Homo sapiens: one gene and its partner. Changing the gene in region 1 together with any one later gene gives a genetic interaction. Each region holds a gene or a part of one and is shown on either strand. Other genes may lie near its edges.

Region 1 (3,500 bases):
TTGATGGTATCTGTTTTGCAGCATCCAGAAGGGTGAGTTTGCTAGTAGGAGATGAGTATTTAAACAAAGCTTTTGTAGGCAGTTGTTCATCAGTGTCTCCCATGGCCTTTTCTCAGTCTGACTTTACAGAGAATTTCACTATTTCACCCTCAAAAAAACAAGACTAGAAAAAGCAGGTCTGGTTCTTTGGGCTGAGATAACTTGGCATGTTTCCTTTGTGGCCACATTTCTGCATCTTTCCGGACAAAGTCACTATGGTTTATTTTATTTTTCCAACGCTTATATAGGGCTTACTTTGTGCTAGGCACTGTTCTAAGCACCTTAGAAATTTTGCCTCCTTCAATCTTTTTTTTTTTTTTTAACGAGACGGAATTTCGCTCTTGTTGCCCAGGCTGGAGTGTAATGGCACGATTTTGGCTCACTGCAACCTCTGCCTTCTAGGTTCAAGTGATTCTCCTGCCTCAGCCTCCCAAGTAGCTGGAATTACAGGCATACGCCACCATGCCCGGCTGATTTTTGTATTTTTAGTAGAGATGGGGTTTTGCCATGTTGGTCAGGCTAGTCTTGAACCTCTGACCTCAGTGATCAGAAGTGATTCACCCACCTTATCCTCCCAAAGTGTTGGGATTACAGGCGTGAGCCATTGCACCCGGCCTCCTTTAATCTTCATAGCAAACATATTAGGAAAGAACTATTATTATTAGTCGCAGTTTTGATGGGGAAATCAAGGCATAGTGAGGATAAGTAAGTGGCCAAATTTACATAGTAAATGGAAAAGCCAGGGTTTAGCTCAACCAGTGTGGCTCCAGACTATGTTTAATGACTTTGTTATGCTGTTTGCAATACAGGCAGCAGAAAATCGAATTTTTGAAAGATTTATTTTTCCAGTTCTCAGAAAGTCAATATGCAAATTAACATGAATATTCTATTTCTTGTGTGACTCAAAGCTTTCCTCAGCAGTTGAAAATTGTGGTTGTATATGTAACTAGTATGGGTACTCTGAGATAAATGAAAAGCGGGGCTTTTTTGTCTTCCTCTTTGTCATCCACCTTAGCTATCTGTCATTTAAGTTTATTGCCACTCTCTGACAGGAAGTATTTGGGATAAAATCTTTGAGAGCTGACTTTATGCTTCCTTGACACTGAGCCTCTGTCTGCCACATTTGCCCTGGTCATAGTTTAAACACCAGGTCCTGTGTCACATCTTTTTGGTGCCACAAGTATCACTCCATTGTTCAGAGAGTAGTGTATTAGTTCTGCCCAATTCATTCTTCACTTTTATTTCTTCCATTTCATTAGCATTTATATCAGCTCAAGAAGTTAAGGTTAGAAAATTTTCCACTTCAAATTTTCAGTACAGAAATGTGCTGTGATGTTTGACAAGACTATTTCATAGTAAGTGAGTTAATGTTTATTGGCCTCTGATATGCCGAACATTGCACTCGGCAGTTGATGTAGTAGATTCCTCATTTATTAATCAGAGCTCCCTCATTCCTACTTTATAGATGATGGATCTGAAGCACAGAAAAGTTAAGCAACTTGCCTATGGTCACAAGCTCAGGTCTTTCTGACTCCAAACCATGCATGTTTAAATTACTCTTCTTGCCCTTTGTCCCAGGGAAATTAGTTTTTTGCTAACTTACACTGCCCAGCAAGGGGCATTTTAGTTATCCTTATGAATCTTATGTAGATTTCTGCTAGATCATCCTCCCATGTGTTAAACTTGGATTAAATGAGCAGCTCTGATTGTTTCCTGTCCTCAGGGGCTATGCCATTGCCAGCAGCAGTGACGATCGGATGAATGAGCCTCCAACCTCTCTTGGGCTTGTGCCTCACCAGGTTAGTGATGTGGAAGTGAAATCACAATTCTTTTGGTACAGGGGGAAAGCATGTGGGGTCTCTTTGCCATTCCATCTGCCCAGCCCACTTCATATCCACCCTACTTACCCTGCAGCTGGGATTTCAATGGGAGAGCTTTCTGACCACCTGGAAGGTATTCCATTCTGCGGGATAGTGATGGGAGGAAATCACGAACGAGAAGCATTGCCCAGAGTCTTTGATGCGTTTTGTAAACTGACTAGAGGCCTCATAATGCAATAGGAACAGAAAAAACAGGCTTTGGAATCAGTCATACAATGGTTTAAATCCCAGCCCTGCCGTTATAAAGATGGCCTTCTTTGGCCAAGTCACTAAACTTCTCTGAGGCTTAGTTTTCTTATCTGTAACATAGAGAAGGTAATGCTGACATCACCTGGTAGTTGTATGGATTATGGATGGTTGCTAGAAAGGGCTCAGCAACAGTGTATATCATAGGCCCTCAACAAACAATGCCTGCTGTTTCTTTACTGTTGCTTGTTATTATTATTGACTCTGAACCCAAATAGAAAACCTTTATAGGCAGGCATGAGAAAAACATTAGAAGCATGCAGGGTCACCAAAAAGTGGGGTGTCTTTTCAGAAAAAGAATCCAAAGCATCATGAGGAAGTTCCATCCCTTAGGGAGTAAAAAGAAAAAGGCAGTGGGATGATCTTTTAGAATTCATGTTGCCTCTTCAGTCATTTTCATTACTATATTTTTGGGAGATTGAAGAGGTTTTCCAGTCTTATTTGGAAATCATTTTTTTTTAGATTCCATGTATGTATCCTCTCCTGTAATGTGACTGCTGTTCCCATCAGTGAAATCGTGATGGTGCCCACCAGTCCTATCTGGTGATTTGCAAGGACAGACTCAGACGAGTGCAGAGAGCAGAGTGACTCAGCTCATGCTTGTCTCTCTCTTCCTCCTCGCCACCCACCTTCTGCCAGCTAGGGCGGCACTGTCATATTCAGTTTAGGATGAGAATCAGAAGAGGGGAAACGACTTCTTCATGGTCACAGAGACTTAGTGGATGAGCCACAATCCATACCTAAACTTGGCAGTCTGACAAATGTTCTTTCAAAGGTCTTGTGAGTTGAAAGATCCGTGGCCTGCATGTTGGGAGATTTTGCTTCCTGTTGGTACCCCAGCCCCCTTGCACAAAACCACCCATAATAGAACTTGTGGGCCGGGCGCGGTGACTCATGCCTGTAATTCCAGCACTTTGGGAGGCCGAGGCGGGTGGATCACGAGGAGAGGAGTTTGAGACCAGCCTGACCAACATGGTGAAACCCCGTCTCTACTAAAAATACAAAAATTAGCTGAGCGTGATAGTGTGCACCTGTAATCCCAGCTACTCAGGAGGCTGAGGCAGGAGAATCGCTTGAACCCGGGAGGTGGAGGGTTGCAGTGAGCTAAGATCGCGCCATTGCACTGTGGCCTGGGCGACAGAGTGAGACTCCATCTCAAAAAAAAAAAAAAAAAAAATAGAACTTGTAGAGTTCACTTAGCCTCCCAGAGTCTCAGTTTCCAAATCAAGAAAAGCAGGTGCTTTACTTTGTGTCCAGGATTACATCTGACACGGCCTTGAAAACCACAAAACACTATGAAAATGTGCCCCCCTCTGTCCCCCACACACAAGGTGG
Region 2 (2,854 bases), on another chromosome or scaffold:
ACCATGCCCGGCCTAACCTATTTTATAGTTAATAGAGACGGGGTTTTACTATGTTGCCCAGACTGGTCTCGCACTCCTGGACTCAAGTGATCCTCCTGCCTTGGCCCCTGCCAAAGTGCTGGAATCCCAGCCATCAGTTACCATGCCTGGCCCCAGCAACAATTTTTAATTCCATATTTTATCTTGCACATAGTAAAGGTCTCTGTTAACCAGATGTTTAACGGCTTCCCTCGATTAATACTCAATACACCAATATCTAGGAGGGTCTTTCTCCCTTCATGAATATACAGTAGCGATATACATATAGACTTTAGAAAAAGTAATAATCTGACTCTTCTACCAAATATAAATGTGATTATAATCATATAATCCAGGCTTTCTCAGGGAACATTTTTCAGGGCTAATTTCTCAAAACTGTAACTAAATTATCCAAGACAAAGTCTTATATTCCATGAATACATTTCTCGAAATCAAGATTTGCAAATTCAACCATTAGACACTTTGTGGGAAACCAGCTCATGTTTAATTGTGACATTTTAAAATTGTACAGGTATTTTGACATCTGCCCCCCACATTTAGTCTCTCAAAATGACAGGAAAACAACCAATCACAGGTTTAATACATTGACCCCTTCAGTTCCTATATGCAGCACCCAATATTCCTTTGAAATATGAAATAGACCTGGCAGTGGCCAACAGTAAATTTCTGCCCGCTGCCTCCCACCACCAACGGAGTTGAAAAGTTCAGGTTTAGTGTTGTTGTAGTGGCACTTGTCCAGAATTGGTACCTCCCCATAGTTGGGGGACTTTAAATGTACCAATGAAAATAGCTTTTTCCCCTTCAAGGGGAAGAAAGAAAATCACTCCTCAAAACCCAGCAGATCTGGCTGTGAGGTCTTTCCTCCTATCTCATCTCTTCAGGCTTTTTTTTTTTTTTTTTTTTTTTTTTTTTTTTTGCAGTGGAGCAAGAGAGACCAAAACCTAACCTGAGTTACAAGAAACAAGACAGTAATGGCTATAAAGGGAGTGACCAGGAGCAACTGGGACACTCCTTTACCTCCCATATCCAATGTATGTGTTTCACAGAAAAACAACAAAATTAACAAATTCACAAAATACAACAGCTAGAATTACAAAATCCATTCATCCAAGGGTGGTAGAAGGCAGGATGGAAAGGTGGAAGGGTAAATGGCACAGGGAGAAAAACAAAGTGTTCCAATCAGTCCAGGCACAGGGACTGGCAAATGCTAGAAAATAGCTGCAGAAAAACCTGTGGTCCTTTCAGACTCACGGTGATGTTAAAAATCCACACACTGGTGTCAGGGAACATTCTGCCTTACGTGCACCAGAGACAAAAATTTCAATTCCTCAGAGAGAAGGGAATACGCAGAGGGCCCTTGGCAGAGCGGGTCCTGCCTTCCCTGGCAGGCGGGAGGTGAACAGGGAAAAGAGCTGCCACAGCTTCTTCCAATCCCGCCCATCCCCTTTGGATGGCAGGCAACTCAGTGACCTGCAGTAGCCTTCAGTTTGGCAGGCGACGGATGCGGTGAAGGGAACTTCTCTGCAGAAGTAGAGCTGCTCAGGGCCGACTGCAGGTAGACTGTCTTGTGGAAGAGTCTGTTGCTTAAGAAGACCACCAAGGAGAAGAGGCGCAACTGGAAGAGACTAAAAGGCAAGAAACCCAACTTGTTAGCTCCCCAGTTACTCAAAATTATTTCCGTTGTTTGACAACTTGACATTAAATTTAAAACTACACAGGGAAAGACAAGACAAATGAAACTTGATCAAGGAAATACAGATATTAGATACATGGATGGAACAGGCAACTAAAGAATACATTGGAGCCGGGCGTGGTGCCTCATACCTGTAATCCCAGCACTTTGGGAGGCTGAAGCAGGTGGATCACTTGAGAAAAAAATTAGCAGGGCATGGTAGCATGCGCCTGCAATCCCAGCTACCCAGGAGGCTGAGGCAGGAGAATCGCTTGAACCTGGTAGGCGGAGGTTGCAGTGAGCCGAGATCACGCCACTGCACTCCAGCTTGGGTGACAGAGCGAGACTCCGTCTCAAAAAAAAAAAGAATGCATTGGGCCCTGCTGCTGCCATGAATGTAATGCAGTCACCAGCGTTGAAGTATTGTGGCTCTTACAGGAAATAGTTATATTTTAGATTAACTTTGATTTGAGAAGTACTTTTCTATGGCTGACTTCGGGGTACAGACTTCAAGCTATGTCTGAAGGTATCATATGCTATCTGTGGTTGCAGGAAGAAGAGTTTCAAAAGAAAGTCAAATATTCCTCTTAAGATAAACAGTGAGCTGTGCTGTATAGCAAGAGCATACAAAAACCCAAAGCAGACCTAAGTCTCTAATACAAGTATCCACACTGACTTAACCAAAATTGATCAAAGATGAATTGAGCTTTTCTTTGAAGTAATAAAACTTTTAGAATGCTATTATTATTGCTAAAAACTCATTTTAAAGTATATTTTACTACTGTTATCAATAAACTCATGTGGCCAGGTCATACAGCCCTCTACTTGAATATGTATAATGGGATCGGTTTTGGAAATATATATATACTCATGTGCATATATGCATGGAGAAAAGTTTGGGTTATATCCCAGAAGTGTTTCTCTCTCATTAAACCTTATATTAAGATTTTCCTACAGTAAGAATTTTTTTTTTTAAAAAGCCTCACTGACATAACTGGTGTTACAGCCCCAACCCTTTACACAGCAAAAATTTCATCACTGGCTAATACTTACTATGCTTTGCCAGGGGTCTTTGCTTCATTGGCGCTGATAATGAATAAAGGAAAGAGGATAGAGAAAAGGCAGCCACTGTTTAAAAAAAAA

What was found. Genes that interact genetically often act in the same process or in processes that back each other up.
Region 2: of ATG7 (region 1) and EI24, changing one enhances a phenotype caused by changing the other (phenotypic enhancement), as found in Homo sapiens cells (one large-scale study listed by BioGRID).

What each region holds. Positions count from the first base shown.
Region 1 is NC_000003.12:11,362,897-11,366,396, forward strand, and holds part of ATG7 (ubiquitin-like modifier-activating enzyme ATG7), read left to right. Parts: coding exon 1-32; intron 33-1,762; coding exon 1,763-1,838; intron 1,839-3,500. UniProt on the Homo sapiens protein: E1-like activating enzyme involved in the 2 ubiquitin-like systems required for cytoplasm to vacuole transport (Cvt) and autophagy.
Region 2 is NC_000011.10:125,582,331-125,585,184, reverse strand, and holds the end of EI24 (etoposide-induced protein 2.4 homolog), read right to left. Parts: intron 2,840-2,854; coding exon 2,765-2,839; intron 1,665-2,764; coding exon 1,502-1,664; 3' UTR 501-1,501; downstream 1-500. UniProt on the Homo sapiens protein: Acts as a negative growth regulator via p53-mediated apoptosis pathway. Regulates formation of degradative autolysosomes during autophagy.